7 linked regions of the Homo sapiens genome follow. The protein of the gene in region 3 interacts with the protein of the main gene of each other region in a pairwise test. Each region holds a gene or a part of one and is shown on either strand. Other genes may lie near its edges.

What was found.
Region 1: the proteins of EHHADH (region 3) and NECAB2 interact in binary tests that used the Homo sapiens proteins (3 or more experiments, as listed by UniProt).
Region 2: the proteins of EHHADH (region 3) and CLDN18 interact in binary tests that used the Homo sapiens proteins (3 or more experiments, as listed by UniProt).
Region 4: the proteins of EHHADH (region 3) and CCDC102B interact in binary tests that used the Homo sapiens proteins (3 or more experiments, as listed by UniProt).
Region 5: the proteins of EHHADH (region 3) and ADARB1 interact in binary tests that used the Homo sapiens proteins (3 or more experiments, as listed by UniProt).
Region 6: the proteins of EHHADH (region 3) and ORMDL1 interact in binary tests that used the Homo sapiens proteins (3 or more experiments, as listed by UniProt).
Region 7: the proteins of EHHADH (region 3) and HMG20A interact in binary tests that used the Homo sapiens proteins (3 or more experiments, as listed by UniProt).

The regions. Positions count from the first base shown.
Region 1 is NC_000016.10:83,974,744-83,979,019, forward strand, and holds part of NECAB2 (N-terminal EF-hand calcium-binding protein 2), read left to right. Parts: intron 1-3,700; coding exon 3,701-3,809; intron 3,810-4,276. UniProt on the Homo sapiens protein: May act as a signaling scaffold protein that senses intracellular calcium.
Region 2 is NC_000003.12:138,019,578-138,023,853, reverse strand, and holds part of CLDN18 (claudin-18), read right to left. Parts: intron 3,282-4,276; exon of another isoform or gene 197-3,281; coding exon 32-196; intron 1-31. UniProt on the Homo sapiens protein: Involved in alveolar fluid homeostasis via regulation of alveolar epithelial tight junction composition and therefore ion transport and solute permeability, potentially via downstream regulation of the actin cytoskeleton organization and beta-2-adrenergic signaling.
Region 3 is NC_000003.12:185,233,081-185,237,356, reverse strand, and holds part of EHHADH (peroxisomal bifunctional enzyme), read left to right. Parts: intron 1-1,894; coding exon 1,895-2,067; intron 2,068-4,276. UniProt on the Homo sapiens protein: Peroxisomal trifunctional enzyme possessing 2-enoyl-CoA hydratase, 3-hydroxyacyl-CoA dehydrogenase, and delta 3, delta 2-enoyl-CoA isomerase activities. Catalyzes two of the four reactions of the long chain fatty acids peroxisomal beta-oxidation pathway.
Region 4 is NC_000018.10:68,835,874-68,840,149, reverse strand, and holds part of CCDC102B (coiled-coil domain-containing protein 102B), read right to left. Parts: intron 3,402-4,276; coding exon of another isoform or gene 3,387-3,401; coding exon 2,781-3,386; intron 1,445-2,780; coding exon 1,224-1,444; intron 1-1,223. UniProt on the Homo sapiens protein: During interphase, forms fibers at the proximal ends of centrioles to maintain centrosome cohesion. During mitosis, dissociates from the centrosome following phosphorylation to allow centrosome separation. Contributes to CROCC/rootletin filament formation.
Region 5 is NC_000021.9:45,182,093-45,186,368, forward strand, and holds part of ADARB1 (double-stranded RNA-specific editase 1), read left to right. Parts: intron 1-492; coding exon 493-661; intron 662-1,269; coding exon 1,270-1,418; intron 1,419-2,381; coding exon of another isoform or gene 2,382-2,501; intron 2,502-2,830; coding exon 2,831-2,999; intron 3,000-4,276. UniProt on the Homo sapiens protein: Catalyzes the hydrolytic deamination of adenosine to inosine in double-stranded RNA (dsRNA) referred to as A-to-I RNA editing.
Region 6 is NC_000002.12:189,773,913-189,778,188, reverse strand, and holds part of ORMDL1 (ORM1-like protein 1), read left to right. Parts: intron 1-2,472; coding exon 2,473-2,624; intron 2,625-4,074; coding exon of another isoform or gene 4,075-4,084; exon of another isoform or gene 4,085-4,276. UniProt on the Homo sapiens protein: Plays an essential role in the homeostatic regulation of sphingolipid de novo biosynthesis by modulating the activity of the serine palmitoyltransferase (SPT) in response to ceramide levels.
Region 7 is NC_000015.10:77,427,049-77,431,324, forward strand, and holds part of HMG20A (high mobility group protein 20A), read left to right. Parts: intron 1-4,276. UniProt on the Homo sapiens protein: Plays a role in neuronal differentiation as chromatin-associated protein. Acts as inhibitor of HMG20B. Overcomes the repressive effects of the neuronal silencer REST and induces the activation of neuronal-specific genes.

The sequences.
Region 1 (4,276 bases), on a different chromosome or scaffold from region 3:
GGACTTGGTGTGGGTATAGATAGGGGAGTGGTGTGGGAATAGAATGGCTGGGGAAAGAGGAATGAGTGTAGGGGTGAGAATAGGTGTCAAGGAGGTGTGGATCCAAGAATGAGAGCAGGTGTGCAGGGAGGTGTGGGTGCAGGGATGAGAGCAGGTGTGCAGGGAGGCGTGGGTGCGGGGATGGGAACAGGTGTGCAGGGAGGTGTGGGTGCAGGGATGGGAACAGGTGTGCAGGGAGGTGTGGGTGCGGGAATGTGAACCGGTGTGCAGGGATGAGAGCAGGTGTGCAGGGAGGTGTGCAGGGATGAGAGCAGGTGTGCAGGGAGGTGTGGGTGCAGGGATGAGAACAGGTGTGCAGGGATGAGAGCAGGTGTGCAGGGAGGTGTGCAGGGATGAGAGCAGGTGTGCAGGGAGGTGTGGGTGCAGGGATGGGAACAGGTGTGCAGGGAGGTGTTGGTGCGGGGATGGGAACAGGTGTGCAGGGAGGTGTTGGTGCGGGAATGTGAACCGGTGTGCAGGGAGGCGTGGGTGCGGGGATGGGAACAGGTGTGCAGGGATGAGAGCAGGTGTGCAGGGAGGTGTGGGTGCGGGGATGGGAACAGGTGTGCAGGGATGAGAACAGGTGTGCAGGGGGTGCAGATGTGGAGGCCGATAGGCCCACAAGCACACACAGGACTGCTCAACACTGACGCTAGCCCTGCCTCACGTGTCCACAGGAAGGATGGATGGGATGCCTCAGGGGAGCGGGAGATGGGGTGCAAACTCAAAGGACCCCCCAGGCTGCCCTTAGGACTTAGAGATTACAGGAACAAAGGCTCAGGGCTGCCCTGTCAGGGTGGCTCCTGTGACAGAGACTTGTTTGGCTGAGCTGGATACCGGATGCCCAGTCCCTATGGGAAGGTTAGCATGAGGGGCCTGACTGGCAGCCTGGGACATAAACTCAGGGGGTGGCAGAGGGCTGAGTGGCAGACAGCATTTCCCTTCAGGGACATGGACGCTGACAGGCTGACAGGCTCTTGGCATTTGAAAGGTCATGGAGACAGAGAGTGAGTTTGTGCTAATTAGCAAAGACACCTGCAAACGGCCCGCTTGGGGTCTCTGGCAAAAGTGCCAGCGCGGGCCCGCTTGGCCTGTCTAATTGGACTGGGGGCCTACGTAGGGCATGTTTTTTCCTCATTAGTGAATTCATTAGGGCCGTGATCAGGCGTTCAGGATAAATGTCAGCCGAAAGCTTAGTGAGGGGGCACCTTGCTGGCCTCTGTCTGCCTGCTCTCCCTGTGTGCCGAGGGGGCACCTTGCTGGTCTCTGGCTGCCTGCTCTCCCTGTGTGCAGAGGGGGCCCAAGGTACCTGGACAGGCACGTGGGGAGATGAGCCAGCCAGAGGGAGGCTGGGATTGGGGCTCACAACCCCTGTCATGCCCATGGTGACTGCCCCTCACCCAAAGTGGGGGTGCCTGAGCCAGCACCCACCCCCTGCTGGGTAGGTGGCGATGTCGCCACAAGATCCTACCCCTGGATTAGGTTGAGAGCCTGGACTTGGGAGCCAGATGGCCTGGGTTCAAGCTTCAGCTGTAGGACCTAGGCAAGTACCCTAAGGGCTCTGTGCCTCAGTTTACCCCTCTCTAACATGGAAGTGGTAGTACTACCTGTGTCGTGAGTGTTAAGAAGACTAAAGGAGTGAGTCCGTGGAAGGTACTCCACGTGTGGTGTGACTCCACACTGGGATTCCTGGGTTTTATCTTCAGGCTTGCCGAAGACACTCGGAAGGCATCCTCTGTCACAGAACACAGAAAGCAACAACTTCGATTTCACTTATCTCGTGGCTGACTTTGCGGACTTTTAGTTGTTAGGTTTTGGGTCTTTGGTTTGTGCATGTGTGGTTGGATTGGGGTTTTTTTGGCCTTTCCTTTGAAAGACAGAAATTCTTCCCACTGTAACCTTGAAATCTGAGCTGCGATGGGGGCATCTTGGGATATTGGCCCTAGCCCCCCGTGCCCACACGTTCATATTCTTTACCGGTCTCTGATACTTTATGCTCTATGGGGTTAAAGAGAAAAGTGGTGGCATGAAACCTTGGCAAGATCTGAGGACCCCCCCTCTCCTGAGCTTATGCTCTCACCCTGTGTTGAGCTCCAGCAGAGCTGCTGGGAGCACAGACAGAAGCACTGGAGCCTTTAAAGTTTAAGAATGACTCATTCTCAACCCAAGTACGTCTGCCATGTCGGGTTAGGCAGGTTGTGCGCTGCACAAGGGCACCCACCCGAGGAAATGGAGGGTTTCAAATCCAGGCTGCAATCCGCTTTCAACACATGTGCACTGACACTGGTCTCATCCTCTCGGCAGAGAAAGGAGAGTCTTTTTCTAATCCATAGGAAGGTGCCATGTGGACTCTCAGGGCCCTTGTCCCAAGCACCCAGCTTTGAATGCAGATCCTCTGGAAGTAATGCCAGGGGTTTATGCAGAGAGGCTGGGGGCCAGGAACTGTCATGGGCTCCCTCTTGTCTCTGACCTCCATGCCACTCACATAGTTTCTCTTAAGGAGGAACAGATCCTTGAGGAGGGGGGAGGTGGCTGCAGGGCAGGTGGGGGATGAGCTTGCTGGCATTTGCTCAGCAGGTCTGTTCAGGTGGAAGGAGCTGAGGGTGGAAGCTTAGGGACCGCCTCCCAGAGTCCCTGATGTTCTTAAGCCACCTCCCCTGGTGGCCCAATCTGATCCAAACCCACAAGACCTTCCTGGTAGGGCCAAAAGTGTCCCCAGAGCAACTGCAAGTGAAGGGAAAAGGTGAGGCGATGGGTGGGACTGGTGGCATGTGTCCCACCCATCCCTCCACAGAGCCCCTCCACAGAGGAGCTGTGGAGGCCCCTCTGTGGAGCTCCACCTCAGAAGCACAGCCTCTGGCCAGAGCGTTGGCACCTCCAGGCCTGGCACCTCCTTCCTGCATGGCTTGGCATCTAGATGGCTGCATCTGTGGCCTGGGAGAGGAGGTAACTGAGAACCTCATGCCGGCCATTGGCAGCCATCTCATGCTGCCTCAGGGAAGGACCTGAAGTTTGCCACATAGATGGGGCGGAGAAGAAAGGGTTCTTCTGTACTCTAAGAACAGTGCTGAGAGAGTCAGGGCTTAGGGGCTGGGATTGGGGTTGGGAGCATGCAGAGACCACTTGGCGTTTGGAAGCTATGGAGTGGTGGCTCATCCAGCTGCTGGTTTTTGGATCCACTTCATACCGATGGTGTGACATGGGACAAGTTGCTCACAGTGGGTTATCTTAAATAGCACCTGCCTCCAGGTGGCCATGTAAATTGAGAGAAAATTCACTGGCAGGGGGCAGATACTCTATATTTGTTGAACGCATGGAAAATGTTGAGTGCATGGTGAGCCCAAGAAAGCTAGCTATTGCATTATTGTTAGTTTGAGGATTATCTGTAAACAGGCATTGGTCTGGGAATTAGCTGGATGAGGCATGATTCTCTGTGTACTGGAGTTTACTGGTTAGTGTGGGAATTAGCTGGGTGGGTAGGGATTATCTAAAATGGAATTTGTCTTTTAGTTTGGGGATTAGCTGGGAGGGTAGGGATTATCTGAGCTGCAGTTGTTCTGTCAGTCAGGCCATTGACTGGATTTGGGGGCCGTGCATGCACTAGCCCCACCAGCCTTATCTCTGCAGACACCAGCTCCTTTCTCTGCTTCCTTCCTTGCAGATGATGGGAAGCTGTCCTTGGAGGAATTCCAGCTCTTCTTTGCAGATGGCGTCCTTAATGAGAAAGAACTGGAGGATCTCTTTCACACGATTGACTCTGACAACACCAAGTGAGCTTCAGTCCTGGCTGGCAGAGTGGGGGTGTGTGTGGGCTGTGGTGGAGGCATCTTTTCATCTAGTGTCCGTTCCTAGTCCCCTGTAAGGGGCAGGAGAACTGAAAATCCCCAAATTTGCTAATCCAGAAGTCAGCTCTTCACTGCCTGGGGTGAATGGGGCGTGTGCAGATTCATATTGCATTGGCTACTATCGCAAGTGTGTCTTCTGAGTGCACATGGCCAACTAAGGAGAGACTCCTGGTTTTGCACAGTGGACATGGGATTATGAAAATGGGAAGGTGGCAATGACTTCATCCTTCTGCCATCTTCAGCCAGCAGCCAGTTCTCACCCCAACCCCAATGCCTGTGTGTCCTCCCAGTCCCAACATTAACTGTGAGGTTGAACGTCATCCTAACACTGACTCCTGTGTTAAACCAAACACGAATCCTAACTCAACACTACGTCTATCATTATAGCTTAT
Region 2 (4,276 bases), about 47 Mb from region 3:
CAGAAGTGGGAACTCCAGGCTCTGTGTTTACCTGAGACAATGAACATGATCCCGGAGGTCAGTGTCATGTTGGCTTTGGCAGAGTCCTCCATGCTGCCAATGCGGATGCATTTCAGGGCAAAGATGGATACCAGGAGGCCAATGGCACCCAGGACGATGCCTACGATCATCAGGGCTCGCACTGCCTGCAGCATGGCTGTGGGACAAGGGGCAAGACACAAGCAGACAAATAAGACCAACTCAGCACACTTGATTAGGCTGTGGTTTAATAAAACAAAGCAACCACAACTAACCTGCACCAAACCTCTGAGAGACAGCAAAGTCCATAAACTGTGAACCTTGCCATTGTCAAAGGATGTGGAATTGTGGGAAATACAAAATACATTGCTTACAATTCTCTGACTGATGAAGGACATGCACTCAGATGTCTTCAGAATCAGAGAATTATGGATGGTTGGAACTTGGGGGGGCCCTTGGATTGTATCTATTTCAGCTTCCTCATTTTTAAAGCTTGATAATCTGGGGGTTGGAAAGGGGAAAATAGTTTGCCTAAGGTAAGAGTTCAAATTACTGATAGAGCTTATAGCTGTGACTTCTAACCTAAATATTTTTCTTCTCTTGTGTTTCCATATGCGCTAAAAGTTTCACATAGTTGTGTCCACTTTAGGAAACCCGGAATTCATTTATTGCATATGATGAAGTCAAGGTTGCTAAGTGATATACCAAGGATACTCAATTTTGTCCCTTTCCAGAAGGAACTACTAAGATTATGGTGAGCTGTAGGTTTCAGATGTATATAAAACAATATAACAATATTAGGCCTTTCATCTAGACTACAGTTTATCAGCAGTTTCCTTTCTAGGAATCAGTCATAGCTATAGGCCCTACAGGGACTCTTCTGCAGTGCCTTCACCTCCAGATATATCCAAAGTTGTTTCTAGTGCATCCTTAAATTGCAGTGACTCATAGCAACAATTGTTTACTGAGCCCTCCTGACTGGCCATGGGATGACAGTAGTTAACAACAGGTCAGACATGGTCTCTGTTGTCATGGAGCTTATGCCAAAGTGGCGAATGACAGTCACTAAGCATGTCTATTACAAGTATAATTAATTTAACAAGGAAGACAAATTAGTCCTTCATGTGTTCCAGAAGGCAAGGCCCCTAGTGTGGTTGGTCTGGTGGAGCTGAACTGCAAAACTGTGTGGAGATGCTTATGTGCTAGACACCAATTGTTTTATCCCTCCAGTATATCCCCTTTTTTCCTCTTAAGTCCGTGATTTCTGAAGGAGTTGCTGTGTCTTACATCAGTGCTTTTCAAACTACTTAAAAATTTAAATTTCTAATCTGTCACAAATTGACATCCTGACAAAATACAAAATCACCTGCTTGAGTGTCACAGGCATGTCAAATTGTTATAAATGTTTAGAAATATTTATTCTTGATTTCGGTACCAGAACTCTTCAGGTGGGTAACACATAGTTTGTGGGCCAGCTTGGTACACAGGCCCTACTTTGAGTAGTAATATTGACCTTGATCTCTCAGGCCCAGACTTTACACCTGGTGCCCTTGACCATGGCAAATTAATCCAGCATGGGCATCTGAGTCAAACTGGGCAGATGAGACCCTTATACAGAATGTTTGTGCTGGACACAGAGAGCATCAGGCCAGTCTCTCTCCAGGGGCTGAAAGTGTAAGATGCTGTCCTTGGGAGTCCGTGGTTTCCTTCAGGTGGTGAGCTGCTGTATAATGGCAAGCAGATGAAACCCAACAGTGAGGTAGAGAGCCCTGACAGTGTTTGAGCTCCTGACTCCAGCTTTTCCTATGGTCCACATACATTCCTTCCTTAGGTTTCAGGTGCTATCCCAGCACCATTGTTATTATTATTATTTTTAAATCCCTACCTGTTTGAACTAATTCAGGTTGGGGTTCTGTTACTTGAAATCAAGTGGTTCTAACTTATGGAAGATGGTTTCATCAGTGTCTAGACATGCTAACCTTTAAAGTCTTATTGTTTTTGGAGAGTTTCCACCCCTCCAGGTTCGAAGCCATTACCAGAGTGCTGCTGAAGCCCCTTGCAGATGTGAGGGGACCTCTCATGCCAAGTCTTATGGCTGCAAAGACATCGCATTCCACAGTGTGGTGTCAGAGAAGAGGTAAAGGGCATAATTTTTCTTTTTTGGGAAATTGCTGATTTTTTTTCCCTAGTTATATAAGCAATAACTGTTCAATATAAAAATTTCAGGATGTATAGAAAACCATAAACAGGAAATGAAAAACAATAACCTGTTATTCCAACTCTTGGAGATAGCCACCTTTAGCATCCTGGTGGGTAGTTTTCCAGGAAGGAATTTTTTAAAAAGGAGAAACAAAACCCTAATGAGGCTCCTCCTGTTACCTAGACCCAAGGGAGCAAGTCAGAAGCCAGCTAGAAATGCAGATGGAGACCTTGCCAAGTTTTAACTAGAAGGGGCTTGTGGGGTACATTCAAAGGAGGTGTCATTCCTACCCTCAGTGAGACCAGTTAATAACATCCAGGCAAAATTAAAATTTGGGAATGGAAAAAAAACAGGAGAAATGCTTAACACTTTTTTTTTTTCTCTTTGAAGGAGATACTGAGGGAATCTGCCTATAGGGCTGTAGGCAAAGGGCTCAGAGGAAACTGTAAACAAAACAGAGTTCTGTCCAGCCCTAGTTTTCATAGGCAGTTGCTACTTTTTAGTGAAAGCTAGTAAGGAATTTTCAGACATTCAAAAATGTAATCCATGGGGAAAAAACCCCTACAATGTAAGTAATAAAATTATCACCCATTTTATGGTTGAAGAAATGGAGACTCACGTGAGGTAACTTGCCTAAGGACACACACCAAGGGAAAGGAGGCAGAGCTGGGAGTCAAATCCAAAATTGCCTCAAAATCATTACTTTTCCATCACAGCACATTGTTTTGAGGCACCTTATTCTGGAAAAACAGGTAAAGTCCTGGCTTCCATCAAGGTACAAGGATCTGTATACTCTTACAGAATGTATCCTCCAAATTTGGAGACTCAACCATAAACTATCATCCTCCGAAATGGATGCTAAGAATGTGGAAGAAAACATTCTCCAAATCTTCTTAGGGAATAAGCTGGCCTGGTAGATTATTTATAAATGTAACTCTCAAGATGACAGCATTCCCATCTCCTCCAGCAGTCCTGGGAGAGAACTCTCTCCAGTCACCTTGGGAAGATTTCCCTCTCCTACAACAGCTAACATCAGTGGAGCTGCCAGCATATTCACTCTAAGGTGTGTATGTATCATAAAGCAATTTTTCATGCCAGAAGAATCGGCAATCAATGAGAAATTTTGAAAAAGGAGAGTTAGATAATGTAGAACTTGTTAAAGTGCCTCCTGCAATATCTGAGGAGCAGAGGCCCTAGCAGCCTTCTCACCAGATATCTGTCTGAAGTATGAATGACAGTGTCCACCTATTCTAGTTCTATCCCATTGATCTCCATATACTTGATTCTGATTCTCTTCTCCTAAAGAAACTTCTGATTTTAACTTTGCTTCTTTGCTGGGAAGAGAATTCTACAAACAACGATCAACAGTCTTGGTCCCACTGGCAACTGTCATGGGAGCAGGTGCCAGTAAGTGGGAGGAAATTGGCTCCACTGCTCATTGCCAGAAACCCCCTATGTCTAGTAATGACCACGGAGATTCATGGTGGTAAACTCACCTTCCCCTGCACCTGCATGGTCCTACCCTCTGGGATCCTAATCTTCTCTATCGATAAGTAAACAGAGAAAACTGCCACAAAGCAAGTAGCAGGTAGGTTTCTCTTTTAGCCATTCTGTCTCTTACTTGATATTCTGATCAAGAGGCTTATCAGCTGATAACAGGTGAGTCAACAGGCTCTAAAGCCTGATTCCCTGCACCAAAGGTGTGACTACAGCATTCTTCCCAATGAACAATGAAGTGTTATCAGACCTGAAGGGTGGGCAGGATTCAGGGCTGAAAGAAGCAAACAGAAAAATAGGAACTCAGTGTTCCCTTCCTGTTGCAAAATACCTTAATTCCCCAAGTAGCTGTGAACTGACAGGTGAGGTGCCCTTAGGTGTGGTTTTTTTTCAACACAGGCTGCACCTGAGCATCTTCTGGGGGAGCTTTTAAAGAAATACTAATGTTTGTTCTCATCCCCAGAGATTTTCATTTAATTATTCAAAGCAAAATTTCAAGGAATAATGTGAGACAACAGCTTTCAAGAAGGGCTCAGCAGAGGTACTCAGAGTGGAGAGTTG
Region 3 (4,276 bases):
GAAACAAAAGATATAAGGAATGAAAAAGAAGAAACAAAACTTCATTATTCAGAAGATACAATAATGTTTGTAGAAAAATCAAAATAATCTATTAAAAAATTGTTAGAATTAATAAGAAAATTTAGCAGTTTTGCTGGGTATAAAAATCAATATCCCAATATTAATTAGATTTTGATGTGCTGGAAATAATTAAAAAGTGAAATCACTACACTGTTTGTGCTTTGGTTTTTCAGAAACTGGGATAATAATCATACTAACCTTATGCTGTAAGTAGAAGAATATAGTATAGCTTTTAAGAATGTGGGGTTTGTAGTCAAATTGCCTAAGTTTAAATCCCTATTCTACCAGTTATTAGTCATATGTCTGAAGTAGTCACTTGTCTCAAAGCATTAACTTCCTTACCTGTAAAATGGGAATTGTTATGCTGCTTAACTTAGGTGTTATGAAAATTAAATGACACAGTATATGAAACTGCTTAGCACAGTGCTTGATGCATTTATCCAATAATTGTTCATTTCTGTTATTATCTAAAAAACTATCTCAATCTAAAGCTACAGGAATGATAGGCTTGAGACTTGGATTGAAATTGATCTTGTTTCTCTAGAACCAAAAGGAATTGAAAACACGAAACAAAACACTGGACTAGAGAGTGAAATATAATGAATTGGTGAGAAAAAAGCTTAACTCCTGGATTGATGCTAGATGAGGAACAGGTAGCAAAAAGGGAAAAAAAGATGAATAGGCTAGATATAAAATAATTAATTTTTAAAACTTGTACCAAGCTTAGTGTTTTCAAAGAATAGATAATGCTGTAGGAAAAAGCTTACTATGTATAATGTTATATGAAAACAGGAAAATATAAAAATGATTTTATGGTATGCTCTAAATCAGCTGTCCTCAACCTTTTTGGTACCAGGGACTGGTTTCATGGAAGACAGTTTTTCCATGGACAGGGGTAGTGGGTGGGGGTGCAGGCCTGGGAGGGTGGGGGGGCAGGGATTGTTTTGGGATGAAACTGTTCCACCTCAGATCATCAGGCATTAGATTCTCATAAGGAGAGCGCAACCTAGATCCCTCACTTGTGCAGTTCACAATAGGGTTCACGCTCCTGTGAGAATCTAATGCCGCTACTGATCTGACAGAAGGCAGAGCTCAGGTTGTAATGCTCGCTCACACATGTGGAAAAAAACTAAGAACTCCTCAAAATATTAAATTATGGCTATATAGTGATATTTAGGGTGATCTTCATGTTCTTTTTAATTTTGCGTGGTTTTCAAATTTTCCATAATACATGTTATTTTTATAATCAGGAAAAGCAATAAATATTATTTTTATTGAAGATAAAAATCTATTACAAAAACATAATTCTAAGCTGCTTGATTAACATATAACTCATAAATATGTATACATGTTACCCTGATATTTTATATTGTGATGACTCATGCCCTTAACAAAGATATGGAGCTAAGTTGCTGTGAATAGACTTGATTAACAGTATCACACATACAAAAATGAGAGGGGCTGACTCAATCTCAGAATAATGATCTTTGGAGGAGAGTCCCTATTCCCCTTTTCTGAGATTTTTAATTTTTTTAAATATAGACTTACTACTTATTATATGGAAAGATAGATTTTAGAAAATTACAGAATTCCTGGTAAAGATTCAAGGATTTTCTCTCATAGCATTCTACATTCTCCAATATACTTGTTTTCAGCCAAGGATGAAGTGTAAGGGCCCAAAGAGGTCTGAGACTTTAGTCATCAGGAACTCTAAAAAAAATTAAGAAATAAATAAAACAAATTAATTTTTTAAAGAGTATCAGGTAACTTACTGTTATATAACAATGCCCATGTATTTCTCAACTCTGTTTTCTCCTTGTCTTTGTGCCCTTAGGTGCTGATATTCGTGGCTTCAGTGCTCCTAGGACATTTGGCCTTACACTGGGACATGTAGTAGATGAAATACAGAGAAATGAGAAGCCCGTGGTGGCAGCAATCCAAGGCATGGCTTTCGGAGGGGGACTAGAGCTGGCCCTGGGCTGTCACTATAGGATTGCCCACGCAGAGGTAACAACCAAGGCTCTATATAGTGGCTGGTGTGTGGGGCTTTTCTTTAGGGCAAACTCTAAATGTAGTCATAAGTATCAGCGGTGATTATTTTATTTATTTGTTTTTTTGAGATGGAGTCTCACTCTGTCTTCCAGGCTGGAGTGCAGTGGTGTGATCTCGGCTCACTGCAACCTCCACCTCCCGAGTTCAAGCAATTCTCCTTCCTCAGCCTCCCAAGAAGCTGGGACTACAGGCATGCTACCATGCCCAGCAAATTTTTGTATTTTTAGTAGAGACGGGGTTTCACCATGTTGGCCAGGCTGGTCTCAAACTCCTGACCTCAGGTGACCACCCACCTTGGCTTCCCAAAGTGCTGGGATTACAGGCATGAGCCACTGCACCCGGCCCAGAGGTGATAATTTTGAATGGTTAGCTTACTGGTTAACGACTTCAGCTGTTACGTGCCAGTACAGTGGTACTAATTGTTAAAATGTTCAAATACTTCACTTCCATTCTGGTAAGTAAACACCTGCTACTCTGAGCCCTAGTTTCCCTTGTTTCCCTTAACCTTAGCCCTAGGGCCTCTCTATGATCCATCAACTACAGGGGAACTCCTTGTTTCCCTTAACCTTAGCCCTAGGGCCTCTCTATGATCTTGTTTCCCTTAACCTTAGCCCTAGGGCCTCTCTCTGATCCATCAGCTACAGGGGAACTCCTTGTTTCCCTTAACCTTAGCCCTAGGGCCTCTCTATGATCTTGTTTCCCTTAACCTTAGCCCTAGGGCCTCTCTCTGATCCATCAGCTACAGGGGAACTCCTGAGTCAATAGAGAGCCCCGAGACTCTACCTCCAGTACTATGACCCATATCAGGTTTCACTGATGCAGTGCTCATGCAGTATGAGTATTAAATATGTTGGCTGTCACTTCTAAGTATACATTTAAATACTTCTTTGATAACTCAAAGATTTCTGTTTCATGGTCCCTTATAATTATCAGTACCTAATAAGACAAATTTCTATTGGAAAATAGCACAAAACTAGTAAATATGGGGAAATTTCTGGAAATAGGTTTAATTTAGGCTGTTAGACATGTCAGATGAGGTCTGTGATACCACTGTGTATCACAGTATATATAATGGTGGCATTTTTGTAATTAATATATTTTTCTAATGATGAAAATAATATTCATTCTACTAAACTAGAGAACATAAGAAAGTATACAGATGTAAACTAAAATCATCATAAACTCACAGTTCAGAAATAACCACTATTAACATTCTATTTCATTCTAGTCTTTTTTTGTATGTAATTTTTTCTTACAGATTCTTTTTCCTTTGAAAAATGTCCTTTAAAAAAAAGTACATTGGCTGGGCATGGTGGCTCATGCCTGTAATCCCAGCACTTTGGGAGGCCGAGGCAGGCAGATCACAAAGTCAGGAGATCGAGACCATCCTGGCCAACATGATGAAACCCCGTCTCTACTAAAAATACAAAAATTAGCTGGGCATGCTGGCAGGCGCCTGTAATCCCAGCTACTCGGGAGGCTGAGGCAGGAGAATCACTTGAACCTGGAAGGTGGAGGTTGCAGTAAGCTGAGATCGTGCCACTGCACTCCAGCCTGGTGACAGAGCGGGTCTCCATCTCAAAACAAACAACAACAAAAAAAACCACATTTGGGCTTTTTTTGTATTTAGTTTATACTCTATTTTTATACTATAATATTTAACCCATAATTAAATATTCTTTATTCTGCCAATCTCTGTCTTTTAATTAGAGAACTTAATACACTTATATTTAATGTAATTACTGATAAGGAAGAACATCTGCCATTTTGCTATTTGTTTTCTATGCTTTTTGGTTTTTTTGTTCAATTCCTCCATTACTGCTTTCATTTGTGTTAAATGTAAAAGTATACCCTTGTAACTTTCTTGCTGTTTCTTTTACTATATATATTTTTAGTTATTTTCTTAATGGTGGTTAACTTGGTGATTACAATTAACATCTTAATTTATGACAATGTAGTTCAGATTAATACTGACTGAATTTTAATAATATACAAAAAATTTGCTCCTCTGTAGCCTCCATTACTTGCCCCTTTATGCTATTATTGTCACAAGTTATATCTTCATACATTATGTACTGCTTAACATAGATTTATCATTGTTGCTTTACATAGTGGTCCTAAATCAGATAAGAAAAAGAGGAATTACAAATGAAAAATACATTAT
Region 4 (4,276 bases), on a different chromosome or scaffold from region 3:
CTTATTTATATATTAGATATTCCACATTGTGCTAATAAAATTGTAAGCTGATTGCATAGAAACGAAAATCCATATTGAACATTTCATATTACTATTCTCTTTCCCAGATGTTATTTGTTCTTGATCTTTATGAGAATTCACTGAGAAAGGCTATGACAGACTGTATTTTGCAAAGATCGTTGCCACAATGACTGCATCCCACACACCCTTATTATAAAATTGTTTTCACACTCCTTCCATTGAAAGTGCCTCTCTCTCTTTAATCTGAGTCAGACTTTGAGATTCTCACCACCGATAAGTGGGTCTGACTTTTGAGGCAGAATCATTCAAATGGCGTTTTCTTCTCTCTGTGTTCTTAAGATGTTCACTTGCAACCTAGCCCCAATGTTGTGAGGAAGCCAAGCACCCCCTTAAATAGCCCCAGTGCAGGTGTCCCAACTGAGGCATAGATGAAAACCGAGATGGACTGCCAGATATGAGTGAAAGAGGCTGCAGCCCCCAGCCTTCCATGCATTGCCAGCCTTTGAGCCCTTGCAACTGAAGGCACAAGTGAGAGATACAATGTCCATGCCAAGCCATGCTCGCGATTCTTGAACAGAAGACAGGGTGGTTGCTGTTGATATGTTTTAATGATAATTACTTGGAAAAGTTTGTTTCAAGATAATAGATAACTGGAACATAACAGCACTACAGCTATTTTCACAAAGGGGCAACAGCCAACATCACATAGCTAGAAGACATCAGACCAAAGATGAATATCCAGGCCAATTAAGCAAAAGCCTGATGCCCTTAATGGTCCATGTATAAGACTACTTTTTCTGTAATAAATATCTCACAAAATTGTGATTTTTCCACTATTAATATTAACATATTTATTCATTTTTACTGACCAAGTCCAAGATGCTGTCAAACTTAAATAATACACTGGATATTTTAACCTTGTACATTAAGAATTCATATACAATTAAAGTGAATCTACCAGAGAAGATAAAAACATAGTCATGATAAAAGTCAACTTAAAAGAATGGAAAACACTAACAAGTTATAAACTACATTTTAAAATTCAACATATGAATATATATCAAACTAATTTCTTTAAATCCTAAAACTTAATGACTAAACATGGATAAAATACATTATCAAATGACCAATCTATCTGTATTAACAATTTTAAGTGATTTGAAACTTAGACTTGGTTAAGGGAGACAATGATTAGCACTTACTCTCTTTCCTTCCATAAGATTTTTTGGAATTCATCCAAATGCACCTGCAAAGCTGAAATTTCAGTTACTTCATTTTCCAAAGGCAGATTTATTGCTTTCAGTCTCAGCCCAGTTTTCGTTTCACCGTTTCCAGAACCACCATTGTTGAATAAATCAACACCATCTAGATTGGGCTTCATCTCCTCACTTAATTTTAGAGAATCAATAACCACACCTTGTTCCTGAAGACAAAACAAAACAAAACATATTTAAACCTCCTGGAGAAAAATCATGATGACAAAACATTTTCATAAAGAAATAAATGTTACGATACCACAACCAATTCATATTTTTATTTCATTATCATTCCCTGAAAGTGTTGTGTGGCCACACTTACTTGCATTCTTCTTTGAGCTTGTTTTTTTCTATGTTCTACTTTCTCATAAAAAAAATACATTTCTCAAAAGTTCTGCTTTAACTCTTGTTTGTTCTCTTTTTCTAATCGCAGCTAAAAATAACTCTGCACAAACTTGAACAGCTGTAAATAATTTTTAATGAGTTGATGAATTCCTCTTTCAAGTTTCTTTTGTCATAAGACACTTACAGTTTCAAAGCAATCATTTTTTAACATTTTTGAAAGACAAGATAGAATTTTCAGGAAGCTGTTGAATATTTTAAAAAGCTTGCTTATTGCTTCATTTTAGTTCCCCTTATTGCTTTAATTCATGAGTCACATCTAAATAGAATTTAATGGGGCGCTTTAATAAACATGGACATCAGTACTAGAGCAACAACTGCACGACACTCTTAGAGCGTAACTCAAAAACTTCACAGGACTCATGCTATTGGTATTTGCCTACAATTTAAATTTGCCCTGGTTTATAAGTTTGAAATGAAAGACAATTTCAAATAAAATCTCAATGAATAGTCAAGTTCCAGTAAAATCTCGATGATACTTCACTTTTATTTTATTTTTTAAGTAGTATGTGGATTCCAGGTTACCTAGGATGATTCATTCCTTAATTCTCTCAAGAATGAGCATTGCAATCATCTGTACTATAATATTTTGACAAGCAATAAAATAAGATGTGTTGTTCACGGAAAGTATTGAAGTCAGACGAAGGATACATATACATATCTTTCTTGTTAGGTCTCCTAACCCCCAGTACCTCAGAATGTGACTGTTGGTGGAGACAGGGCCTTTAGGGAGGTGATTTAGTTAAATTAGGGTCATTAGGGTGGGCCTAATGATGGTGCCCTTACAAGAAGACCTTAAGACACAGACATGTGTACAGAGAAAAGACCATGTGAAGACACAGGGAGAAAACGGCTTTCTATAAGCCAAGGAGAGAGGCCTCAGAAGAAACCAACCCTGCTAGCATGTTGATCTTGTACTTCTAGCTTCTACAATTGTAAGAAAATGAATTTCTGTTGCTTAAACCACTGTGATTATGGTACTTTGTTATGGTAGCCCTGGCAGGCTAGTATAATCACCATTGCATTTGTCACTTCCTTCTTCCTCCCCATCACTATATATGACCTTCAGAAATTCACATCATCTCTGGATTTTTTTCTTACCTTATTATTTGTGTCCTCCTTTGTAGAAAATTGTCTTTTTACCAAATACTCTCTGATAGACTCATGCATTTGTGAACTCAATTGAAATTGGTCTGTATGTTCACAGGATTCTTCTACGAAGCCAGGAAGCTTCAGATCCTGGGTAACTTTAGCTTCTAATGCCTCCTTCTGAGGTGGCAAACTCTGTTTCTTTTTCAGTGTACTCAATTCTTTCATCGCCATCTCTAGTTTTATTCTGAGTTGTCTTCCTTCCTCCCTGGCACTGTTCCTTTCAGCTCGAACTTTACTCCATTTTTCTCTCCAGTTGGCAGTGCAGTCCGACCACCACCGCATGGTCTTTTCCATCTGAGCAGCTCTGGCCTTGACTTCTTCAAGCTCCCGCAGGCGAAGTTCTTCACAAATATCCCATTTGTTGGTGTTATATGAGTGAGCACAGAAATTGTGAGCAGCATGAGATTGTAGCCCATGAAGTGGGAAGCAGGTATTACAGGTATCCCTGGGGGGTGAGGCAGGTGCCACCATGTCGCCGCGTGACTTAATTGATGATTGTTGCATCTGGAAGATCTGTGTTTCCTCAATTAATCGATGTATGGAATCTAAATTCATATTTATTTTTAAGACCTGAGAAAAGATAGAGACCATAATTTCACGCTGAAATTTCCCTTGTAAATACAGGAACAAGACCTACACTTTTTTTTTTTTTTTTTTTGAAAATTGATGAAAACAATGCTTTTTTTTTATTTTTGACAGAGTCTTGCTCTGTCACCAGGCTGGAGTGCAGTAGCATGATCTCGGCTCACTGCAACCTCTGCCTCCAGGGTTCAAGCGATTCCCTTGCCTCAGTCTACTGAGTAGCTCGGACTACAGGCATGCGCAACCACGCCCAGATAATTTTTTGTATTTTAGTAGAGATGGGGTTTCACCATGTTGGCCAGGATGGTCTCGATCTCCTGACCTCGTGATCCACCCGCCTCAGCCTCCCAAAGTGCTGGGATTACAGGCGTGAGCCACCATGCCTGGCCGTGCTTTTTCAATATTGCATATTTTTCCAGTGTAACTAAAAATACAGAGGAATTTAAACACTTGTAACTATCCACTAAGAAACAGAAAATGCTCGTATTCAATTTTGCCAAATACAAATAAAAATATAAAGATGCAATTGAAGATAGCATATGACATAAATAATTCATTTTGACAATTCCAGTTCTACTTAGGTCATATCTATTGTAACATTGTCCACTACGAAATACAAATTGTAATATTTATTGTCCACTAACTACATAATGGTTTTCTTTATCCCTGCGAAGCCTCAATTTGTTCAGGCAGAATGCACAACCTATTGATCTATAGGTTAACAAGCCTCTATCCCAGTCCCAGAGGTTGAATCATAGTCTACATTTTCCATGATGCCCTTCATCTGTTGACTATTGACTAGTCTCAAGGCAGCCATAGGGTCTGGCTCTGGCGGCTGGGATGTGAGATGAAGGGTACTGAGA
Region 5 (4,276 bases), on a different chromosome or scaffold from region 3:
TGGTGACAGTTTACTAATGAAAACATCACAAGTTAATTCTGTTTTCCTTCTTATTCCTCTGGGTGCCGTTAACCCCTCCTTCCTAATCTCTTCAGTACTTTGATATTTGATGTCAAGATTAATTACCAGACCAGTTAGTCCACCTTTCCATAGTGTTGCCCAGCTGTGTTCTAGTTGTGGGCATTCAAGAAAAGATGCTATTGCATACCAGAGGAAATGACTTCCTTGAGTTTAGTGTCTGGACACTAAGCAATGACGATGGTTGGCTTTCCAGAAATGTCACAAAGTGAGTCCTCAATAGGAGGTTGTTTGCGTGTATACATTTGCCCACTTAAAAAATAGGTGGTAAGAATATGCATGAAGATGAGCTTGAAAAGTCTGTTGGCCCCTGAAAAGTTAAGTCACTGAGAATAAGAGTCAGACTTCAGGAGCACAGTTAGGCAAACATTACTGTGAATTACAGAAAATAGTGTCTCTTTTTTTTTTTTTCAGGCACAGATGTTAAAGATGCCAAGGTGATAAGTGTTTCTACAGGAACAAAATGTATTAATGGTGAATACATGAGTGATCGTGGCCTTGCATTAAATGACTGCCATGCAGAAATAATATCTCGGAGATCCTTGCTCAGATTTCTTTATACACAACTTGAGCTTTACTTAAAGTAAGTTTAGTAAACAAATAAGGACAGGAAGCTCTTTTTAAAAAATATTCCTCTATTAGAAAACATTGCAAAACCTTTCATTGTTTCTGTAATCATGGAAAATCTCTCAAAATCATAACTTTAATTAGTAACAATAAGGCTGCATCCCATTCTTCCACAATGCTCAACACACATATGCACACATACATACAATAACATAACATGGTCATAAATTTCAAGTCTGTGTTTAAGACCATGTGATTTTGTTGTATGCTGTATAAATAGAAGTTCCCAAACTGCCAGGTAAAGATGGTAATTTTTATTCTAGTCACCGTTTCTAGAAAGAGCTAGTCATGTATCCAAACTCCTTTTCTTTACAAAGCCATTTTTTGTATGTGGTCTTTCTGTTCTGAAGTCATAAATTGGAAGAAGGAAAGGTTACTCACATCCTGATGACATATCCATTATTGAGTGACAAGAACTGTATTAATTACCCTAAACATGTAAAATAAATATTCCAGTTCAAACTTATCTTTCCCTTGTGGAAAATACTAGCCTCTGAAAATGATAGACTAAAATTTAACTATATACAGCTTTAAATGTTACTTTTGCAACTTTTTTCCTTTCAGTAACAAAGATGATCAAAAAAGATCCATCTTTCAGAAATCAGAGCGAGGGGGGTTTAGGCTGAAGGAGAATGTCCAGTTTCATCTGTACATCAGCACCTCTCCCTGTGGAGATGCCAGAATCTTCTCACCACATGAGCCAATCCTGGAAGGTATGAGACGAGATTCTTCAACAAGCCAGTTTCTCAAGAAAATGTTAACAGATAAAAACTAACCTGTGTTAATATCCCTTTTCCTTTTTTTCTTTTTATTTTTAGACTTGGATGTGGATCTGATAAGAGTCTCTATAAAAGCATGGATTTTTTTCTTTCCAATTAACTTAATTAGAAAACTTTAATGAATGAAAAATGCTGATTGTAATTAACCAAGTAATTAGAATGGAGTGAGAATATTGGATTAAAATTGTATCAGTATTTAAATTTGGGTAATAAATATCTCTAAATCAGAGGTGTATGTGATCCTCCATATTTCTGAGGAATTCTAATTTGCTAAATGTGTAATTAAAGTATTTATTTGCCTGATATTTCAGAAGCAGATAAACACTAGTGAAAAGTGAAACCACTATTGTGATCATATTTTTTTCCATCCTTCTTTACATTTGAGGTTAGCACTTTTGTTTTTTAGTGTTTTGTATCTACATCCCTTCTCCCAAGCCCTTAGGCATTGTTTATTCCAAATAGAACGTTTTATTACATTACTTTCCTTGTTTATAAAAGCAACAGGCATACTCACTGTGGAAAATTGCTAACTATTTTTAAAATATAAGAACATTAAAATCATCCGTATTCCTGTAACCCAGAAATACTCACTATGGATGTTTTACCATACTTTCCATGGGTTTATTTCTGCATCTGTCTAGATTTATTTTGGAAATTTTAAAAATATAGAGGAAAATAACATGGCAAACACCCAAGTATCCATCACCCAGAATTAGCAAATGTTAGCATTTTGTCCTATTTGCTTCAGTGCATTTTTAATGATAGAAATAAATCATTTCAGTTAAAGTGAAAACCCCATTTCCCCAACTCCCTTGGAGACCACTTTTGTGAATTTTGTTTGTGTTATGTCCTTCCTACTCAATTTCATATAATTTTTTTTTTTTTTTTTTGAGACAGGGTCTCGCTCTTACACCCAGGCTGGAGTGCAGTGGTGCAATCATGGCTCACTGCAGCCTCGACCTCCTGGGCTCTTAAGCGATCCTTCCACCTCAACCTTCCAAGGAGCTGGGACTACAGGCATGTACCACTATACCTGGCTAATTTTTATATTTTTTATAGAGATGGGGTTTCACCATGTTGCCCAGGCTGGTCTTAAACTCCTGGGCTCAAGCGATCCACCTGCCTCAGCCTCCCAAAGTGCTGAGATTACAGGTGTGAGCCACCATACCCAGCCTCTCAGCTTCACATACTTATTTTGTATGTGTATTTTGTATGTATGGCATAAACATATGCATTTATATGCACAGACTGTATTTTAAATTTATAAGCTATTGTTAGATGTGCTTTTCAATAAATCAAATAGATGGTTTACTACCTGTGGGGTTTTAACTCTTTTTCTCTCTTAGAACCAGCAGATAGACACCCAAATCGTAAAGCAAGAGGACAGCTACGGACCAAAATAGAGTCTGGTGAGGGGACGATTCCAGTGCGCTCCAATGCGAGCATCCAAACGTGGGACGGGGTGCTGCAAGGGGAGCGGCTGCTCACCATGTCCTGCAGTGACAAGATTGCACGGTAAGGGGCGGGGGCTCCCTGTGGCCACCTCCCTGCACACAGGATTCATCCATACTGTTTGCCAACCTCCCTTTTCCACAACCATTTGAATTTTGGCCCCATTTCCCACTCAGGTGTTCCACAGTATTCTTTGAAGGACTGAGGTTCTAAACAGGTGCTGCTGGGACCCCCGTGAGGGGCAGCAGCAGGACCTAGACACAGGAGGCTCCACGCTTCTAACATTCCTATCCAAGCGTCTCAGAGTTTACCACTTATTTTTAACGTGGGCTTCTGGGTTAAACTGATGTTTTTAATGGGCTACAGGCCATGACATCTTAAAACTACTGGCTTCTCCTCATTAGTAGTAGATGCAACTTCAGTGGTCACTTTCATCATTCAGTTAACATTTTAGGTAGTTGATATGTGCATTTTAAAAGTAATGCAAACCCTGTCACAGGCATTGTGTTCTAAGCACAGAGAGCATCCCCAGCCATTCTGTGCCTGGGTGTGGGTTAGGCTTAGAGGAGGGCTCTGCAAGCACACTTCTGTAGTCAGCAGGCACCTGGGAGATATTCATCTTTCAGAGGCCTGTATCCAGAGCAGATTATAGAAAACCCATTTCTTCAGATGGTATCAGTTCCAGTAGTTCTTTGTTTTCATTTTTAAACTAATGTTTATTTGGAAAAAAAAAGTAACATAAGCAGATGGCAAAAAGCATACAATGATAAAGTTTAAAACCTCCCTCTTCAGAGCCCTCCTGTGGCACCCACAGTGAGTGGGTTTTGACTGTCCATCCAGAAGCTGTCAAAATTGATGCATACGCATGTGCACGTGCACATCTTTTCATTGTTTGTGTGCCCTTTATGTTGATTTCCTTCAGTGGGTCTTGTCAGGCAACCTCAAGTACAGGGAGCTGGATTAATCACACATTTTGGGCCATTGCCCACAGCCCAGGTGACCACTGTGATGTGTTTATTTATTATTTGTCCTTCCAGTCCACCTCCACACGTGCATATGTCAACTTTGTGTGTGTGTGATGTGGGGGAGGGGGGTGTACTCTTGAAAAATACACAATAGAATTATTTGGAGTATTTGTTGCTAATTTACAGAAATGATACTATGCTGTAAATCCTATCTGATTCTTACATTTTCATTCAACCTATATTTTTGGAGCTATTTCTGTTGCTCTAACCAACAGCCAGTTCACTACTGACTTTTGCAAATCTTCCTTCATAGTCATGGGCCATTTCCTTCATGATGGGACACCCATATTTCTTCTAACTCCCTTATACATGTAG
Region 6 (4,276 bases), on a different chromosome or scaffold from region 3:
TCCCAACCTCAGGTGATCTGCCCGCCTCGGCCTCCCAAAGTGCTGAGTGTGAGCCACCACGGTTTAGATGCCATCCCTGTACCACCACCACCCCCTAACCGTGTTTCAAGTTGGTTGACCATGGACAAATGATTGGTAATTGACATTGTATAGAAAAGCAAACTTCTGATTTATTTGTTATTAGTTCACCACACTAAAAACTTAATTAGCCATCGGAGTTGCAATTACATGACTCCAAATTTAAGTTTCCTTTGAATATAGCCACATTAAACCAATTAAAAATCTGAAGTACATATTGAATGCCTTTAAAAATGAGAAAATGGACCTAATTGTTACACCCGGTTAGAAAAATACAGTATATTTGCCTTTCTGAACCGTACAGTAGAAACCTACAGTGGTTGCTTTATTAAGTGCTACCTCACCCTTAGAGGTATTAATGCTTCACAGGATTCTTGGCCCAGCTTTAAAAATGAATGATTCATTTTGATTCAGTAGGTATTTAGTAAGGACTAAGCATGAGCTACATACTTTTGTTCTCTAATTCTTTTAATGGAGGAATAATAATCACAAACATTTTTACATAAAAACAATTTAAAAAATATTGGGGCAGTAGATATATGGCCAGATAAGATTTTATTATTTTTCACTGAAAAGATGTATAAAATAAACTGTTTTGATATTCTAAACACTAGTTAAGTACATATGGTTTGAAGGAAATAATGAGAGGATGATTATTCTCTTATATTCTAATATCTATGTGGTCTGGAATAGATGTTCTTAACTTTTTGGGGGTCCTATACCCCCGATGATTTGAAAACATATACTTTCTGTTTTATAATTCACTTTAAAGTCCATATGAAAATGGTTTCGTAGAGCTTACAGAATAAATACTCCTTGGCGTAATGTCATCTTCCAACATTTCTAATGTTGGAAGTGTCCAATGTCTAATGTCTTGCGGTGTCCCAGTGCTTATTCCGAGTGTATTCAGGCTAATGGGAAAACAAACATCATGCAAACAACTCTAACATGATATATTGTACTGTAATCGTATTTTCAATAAAATTGTATACAACTACATAAAGAGGAGATTAATTATTACTAATGAGGTAGGTTTTTCTAAGGAATTGTTATTTGAGCTGAACCTTTAAGAATGAGGTAATGAAGTAGCATCAAGACTTTTGGCACAGCAACAAGGAACCTTTCCCTCCCCTGCCATTTGCTGAGTATTCTGATTGTACCTTTGATAGCAATTTCTGCCCTACTTTCTAGCTGTTTATGCATTTTTTTTCCTTATCATCTCTTGGAGGATTGAATTTTTCCAAGGCTTGGGTACATCTCATTCAATTTCATATGTGCATATATGTCCTATGTCTTGTACATATAAGCCACCTATTAAATGTTTGATGGGTTAAATCCAATTGAACATGAGTCCTTTCCTCCATAGCTTACGTGTTATTGTAGCTAAACGACTTCTGAATTGCCTACTGGAATAACTAGGAAGTAGACTAAGCCTTGAAAGGAAGGGCTTGGTTAAGTTGGTATCATATAAAATTTCAAATCCCTAATTTTTCTATATAATCATTAAAAGTAGAGGTAGGAAAAATGACATCACATTGTGGCGTCTAGAAGGAAAAACTTTGTGTCATGATAATATTTAGGCATTATCCCTTTACATAAAGTGCCTCAAGCAGTGATCCTGAATGAAACACTGCCTATGAGTCTAAATGGGTATCATAATCTCAAGGAAACCAAATCTATAGATTGGTTTTTTTCTACCCTATTGATAAAAAAAATTATATGTTTAGACATATGATCTGACAGAATGGCTTTTAGTAATGTTATTTGCTTTGAGTTTTTAAAACTGACTTCAGAAGAAATGCTATTGAGGCACAATAGCGATTTAAAAAGGGAATTGAGTGGAACATTATACCTATTATATCAAACTATTTTTATTGCTTTGGAAGAGAACTATTAAGGCAAAGGCAGTCATCATATTAAATATCTCAAAACTATTTTTCCCAATAGATTTTAATCATTTTATTGTTTTCTACCACTTTGTATGTCTTTATCATTTTTTAAGTATCATCAAATTTACTAATATACCCTGAAGAAAAACCTCCTGTACATTGGGGAAAAAGTAATCCTATTTCCTAATAGGAAAAGTGTAAGAAAATCTGAATGTAAAGATATGAAGCTACCCTGATAATTATTTTTAGTTTAACGAATAGAAATGCAAACAGGTTACTTTCAGTTGACCTTTTACCAATTCTCACTTAATATTTTTATACCCCAGAAAGTTCTATTTTATTATAAAGAAACTGGCTACAGCCTTTCACTATTATATGAAAGCTTAAAACGAACTCAGTTAAATCACACACTCTCACAAACAGCTTGGAACCTCGTTAATGCTACTGACAAAGACTAATTTTGTATTTAATATTGATCATTTATAACCCCTTGCTTGTTTTCCAGGGGATGTACGTATTTTTGCATGCAGTGAAAGGAACACCTTTCGAAACTCCTGACCAGGGTAAAGCAAGGCTCCTAACTCATTGGGAACAACTGGACTATGGAGTACAGTTTACATCTTCACGGAAGTTTTTCACAATTTCTCCAATAATTCTGTAAGTGGCAGAAATTTTTAGGTATGAGGAGGATTGGATAAGAGGAAGATATCTTTTCATCAGATTGAATTGGAATTAGAAACATATTTTGTTGCAAACTTCTATCAATAAGTAGCACCTCGGATAGAACATAAAATATAGACAAAATTTTTAACAAGTTGATAATAAACTAATTTTCACTTCAGTCAGTACATATACGGAGACAATATTACATGCTAATCAGTGCACCTAGACATTTAGGATATACAGGTCAAATGTATTCCAGCTCCCGTCCTTAGGTTTCATATAAGGACACAAAATACATAATCATATTCTATATTGCACTGTCAGATTAATCTCCTTAAGCAATGATTTAGATAATGAGAAGAATTTCACTGGCCACCTATCCTATTAAGATATTCAGACTCCTTGGGAAAGAGTATGGTTTCGAAAAAAGTAGGTCAGGCTTTCATTATAGGATAGACCTGGGTGGAGTCCTATATATATCACTCAGCCAGCTTGGTTTGCTCATATATAAAATTCTAGCTAGTGATACCTAATTCAATCCTAATGCTGTAAGAAATAAATGAGATAATAATCTACCTGGATAGCATGTAACCTGTATCTGGTATCTAATTTCTTTCTCCTATCTGATGTTCTGGGCCTTCCAGAAAATAGTTCTTACCTCCTTTTCCCTTGATGTAAATATTTTATCCCCACCCAACTCCTACCTGGCCTTCTAAGCAGCATTTCTTGAATATTTCATGTGTAGTCCTATTTCTGTCTTTGTTCAAATCAGTTCAAATCATATCTCCTACCTGAAATGCCTCCTCCTTTTTTCCCCAGCTTTACTGAGGTATAATTGACAAATAAAAAAATGTATATATGTTTTATTTTGTCTCTCCAAAGAATTTATAAGTGCATGGATTGCTTTGAATCCCACAGTAAGTACAGTGGCCTACACATAATAGAGGTATTGCTCATATATCTTAATACTCTGTACCATCTAGCCTATACATAATAATGTCCATGATAGAGTCAGTGCAGCCTGGCATAGCACAAAAGACTTCTTGGAGGTGTTGGAAATCCTTATGTTAGAACTTAAGAGAGACTAGGTTTTAGATATTTAAGTAAGGGAAGGCATTTTTAAAGTGAAAGGAATAAACTGATCATAAAATAATGGGGTTCTTTTTCCTTAATTTATAGCCCTTTGAGGAAATTTTGAATTGATTTAGTCCCATATAATATTAACCTCAAAGAAAAGTGTCAGTGTAGTCTGATAAAAATAAATGTAAGCTACATGGGAAGCTGAGGCAGGAAGATGGTTTGAGCCTAGGAGTTAAGAGGCTGCAGTGAGCTGTAGTCACACTGCTGTACTCCAGTCTGGGCAACAGAGCAAGACCCGATTTATTAAATAAATAAGTGAATGAATGCATGCATGCATGTAATAACAAAAATATTGGTTATTCAGATGGCCCTGAATTTGGATTTTGGCTCAACCCCTTTGAAGCTCTGTGACTTTTGGCCGTTTTCTTCAAAAGCTCAGTTTTCTCATCTGTAAAACATTGAGGATTGCATTATAATACATGTAAAATGCCTGACATTCAGAAGTTTTAATCACAGCTATCACACAAAAAGCCAACTGAGATGTACCTGTATACAGTGTCCATATT
Region 7 (4,276 bases), on a different chromosome or scaffold from region 3:
TTGGTTTCTGTGTTACGGTCAGCTGAGTTTAAAGAGTGGGAGTATTCTAAGGTAAGGAGTCTAGTAGCAATCAAAACAAAGTTACTGGGGAAGATGGGAGAATAGAGACTAGACAAAGATGTTAGAATTTGATTCTAAAGCTCTCCTCAGGTAATAAAAATAGATAAATCTTAATGAGAAGGAACCAAGGGCAGTGATTTGGAGAAGTCAGTACAAATAAAGGTATTCATTTGAAGAAATATTTGAGTGCCTTTTATGTGCCAGGCACTATTAAATAAAACTATAGCTATTTTCCTTATTTGACTTTTTTTCTGAAGATAAAATCTTATGAGTGTGATTAATGGTTCTACAAGCATGGGTAGTTCTAGATATGATACCTACATTTCCCTAAAAGATTGTACTGATTTTTAATGATAACAGCAATGTATAAGGATGTTGTTTTCACCACGATTTTACCAGCAAAAATATTTGGCTAGTTGAACACACATAAAATTATTGTTCTCTTTGCTTATAATCTGATAAGTGTTTCCATACCTTGGAACCTGGATCTGTTGGAACATGAAGGAATTCAGGACCCTTATACATGTTACCCCATATGGCTTCTTTAAAGGATATGGATTTTTGAGGATCCTAGAAATCAAAATTCTCTAATTTTATTCAGCTCAAAAAAAAATTTTATTCAGTGCTGCTGTCCTTATTTTCTGAATAATATTCAGATTCAGACCACACTGAGCCATAATTCCAATTCCCACTTGACTAACATTTATGTAGTATTGTGCTAGGCACTACATGTTATCTTAATTCTAATAATTTGGCATTTTTCCATATGAGAAAAATAAGATTTAGAAAGATTAGATTACTTGCCCAAAATCACTTAACCAGTAAGTGGTAGAGACAGGATTTGAATGCAGATCCTCTAAGGCCAGTGTTTATTCTCATACTGCATGATCCCTCAGTATCACTACTAAAATTTACTGGAGGATAATGGAAAGTGGAAAATCTGAACTGGAACTTGGGACAATCAAGCACTGACTTACCTGTGTTCATAATGAAGCATTTAGCAGAGATGTTGTTTGTTGTTTTGTTTTGTTTTTACTGGGGAGGCTATAGTACATAAACAGAGCGAAAGATCTTGGTATGGTTAAACCCACATTTTCAAGGCCTTCTGTGTTCTCCCTGATGATCAGGTACCTACTACCCCAAAATCTGTGATGGTAACAAAGAAGGAGGAAGGCAGCTGTAGAAAAGCAACGGCCTTTGGGTATACCCAGTAAGATTTATGTGATTGTAGAAAGAGCAGGCAAATGGCTTGGCCTTCAGAGAATCCCACAAAGTAAAGTAACCTTTTAAAATAGTAACTTAAAGTCTGACATAAGATTCTTAACAGGATATTCATCACAAGATAAGATATTCAAAGCATAGCGTGTAAGACATTCAAAGCATATCAGCAAAAAAGGAGAGATTCCTTCATTTTTATTGAAGTATGGTATACTCACAAAACAAATTTAATATCAGGAATATAAAACAAGAGATACGATGTTCCAATTCTGGCTTTAGTCGGATATTATAAAATTTAATCCCAATTTATAGATAAGGCAATTCAAGGCTCGAGATTACACACCAAATAAGTGGACTCTAGGCTGGGTGTGGTGGCTTCTGTAATCCCAACACTTTGGGAAGCCAAGGCAGAAGGATCGCCTTAGCTCAGGAGTTTGGGACCGGCTTGGGTAACATAGTGAGATGCTGTCTCTACAAAAAAATAAAAAATAGCCAGACATGGTGGTATATACACATGTGGTCATAGCTACTCAGGAGGCTGAGGCCAGAGGATCGCATAAGCCCAGGAGTTCAAGGCTGTGAGCTGTTATCGAGCCACTGCACTCCAACCTGGGCTACAGAGCAAGACTCTGTCTCAAAAAAAAAAAAAAAGGAGGGGGGAGCCTCTAGAACATAGGCCTTTAATCTGTGTGGTTGTTTTGCAATTTATATGTATAATTTTTAAATAATATGTTGGCCGGGCACAGTGGTTTGTATCTATAATCTCAACACTTTGGGAGGCTGAGACAGGAGGATTGCTTGAGGCCAGGAGTTTGAGACTAACACAGGCAACATAGCAAGACCCCATCTCTACTAAACAAAATAATAATAATTTAATATGGTGGGTTTTTTTGTTTTTTTTGTTTTTTTGAGACGGAGTCTTGCTCTGTCTCCCAGGCTGGAGTGCAGTGGCGCTAGTGAGCTCATGCAATTCTCCTGCCTCAGCCTCCCAAGTAGCTGGGATTACTAGCGCTTGCCTGCTTCAAAAGAAATGATTTCCAGCACCCCATTTTTTCTTTTCCAGCCTCAAAATTCATATCTCCTTTTTTTCCCCCATGTCCACATGTCCTTCATTCCTATACTTCATAGCTTTAATTCCTGTTCTCTTGATACAAACCTTCATGTTTGTTGCTTGATGGCATCATAATTATCATAACTTTTTGGCTTAATAACAGTAGCAGTTATATCAACAAATAATAAAATGTTCATACTTTTGAGCCAATAATTCCACATATAGAACTTCATTCTGAGAAAATACTTTAAATAAGAAAAATAGTTAAAGGCACAAAATGTTAATAGCACTGATATCTATACTGTCTAAAACTTGAAACCTTCTAAATATTCAACAATATAATAATGCCTAAGCAAATTATTGCCTATCTACTCAGTGGGCTGTAAGACATTCATTTTTCACAATAGCGTCTTTAAGAATACATTGAAAGATGTTGTAAGAATGTTTTTGCAAAAATGAAAAGGAGAAACATCAGAAGAAAAAGTAGAAAAACTAATGTGATTGGTGTCTATTTCTGAAGCATTTATATTTTCTATATAATAATAATTTACATTTACTGACCACTTACTTGTGTCAGGAACAATACTCAAGCAACATTATAGAAGCAACAATTTGTAGTTATTGAAAACTGGTGTTCTAGAATCAAATCTGAGCTTCATCACTTACTAATATGTGGTCTTGAAAAGGAAATGGAGGATAACTATGTCTACATTAAATTATTAAATCTATATAAAGTATTTGGCACATACAAAACCTACAATAAGAATGTTTTTGTTATCAGACATTTTATAAATATGTCTCATTTAATCTTCACATCCTCACAGTAACCTCATTAGATAGTGTTAACGTTCATTTTACATGAAAGAAAATTGAAACTTCAAATGTTTAAATACTCTAGGTTAAATAACTTGCCGAATCACTTAACTAATAAGCAGTAGAGTTTTTATTCAGAGCCCAAGCTATGGTTTCCACTTATGACTCTGAGAGATGAGGTTGCTGCAGACTAATGCTTTTGCTAAGAACAGGAAAGATGAGAATTAAAAAGAAAAGTGAAGGCATCAGAGACCTGCTGAGGCATCCAGGACTTAAGAAACCACAACCATAGAACCAAAGGAGCTTCAGAGAAGTGGGCTGATGTTCCATGCTTCTCTTTTTTCCTAGGAATTTGCTAATTCTTAGAGCATGACAAGATGCTGTGAAACTTAGCAGAGGGTTTCTTCTAAAAGCAGAGAAGCTGTTAGTTTTATGGGGCGGAGCAGACAAAACTTGGATTTTAGAGATCTCCAGGTAGCTAGTTCTTGGGTCAAGATCCCTAGAGAAGGACAGTACCCAGAAACTTTTTTAAAACTTGTTTTCCCCTCACAGTGTTTGCTAGGCAGAGTCTAGAACTGTAAGAAAGTTAATTTGTATTGCTTTAAGCCAATAGCTTTGGATAACTTGTGACAGCAACAATATGAAACTATTACAGAGACATGAGGAAATGATGAAGAAGTCTAACATACATATGACTGGAGGAGAGAAAGTTAGAAGCAGTAATATTTTAAGAGACAGTGATTGAGAATTTTCTAAAACCGATGACAAATATCAAGCCATGGATTTGAAAAGTGCAAGAAACGACAAGCAGAATAAATACAAGGAGTACCACACTTTCATTCTTCATAGTAAAAATAAAACTGTTGAAAGTAACCAGAGGAAAAAAGACACATAATCTTCAAAGGAACAATTAGACTGACATCTGACTTGTCAACAGAAATAATGGGGGCCAGAAAACAATACAATGTAACTTTTTTGTTTGTTTTTTTGCTTTTACCTACTTGGTTTATTTATTTTTTATTTTATTTTATTTTATTTTGAGATGGAGTCTCCCTCTGTCACCCAGGCTGGAATGCAGTGGCGTGATCTCAGCTCACTGCAACCTTTGCCTCCTGTGTTCAAGCGATTCTCCTG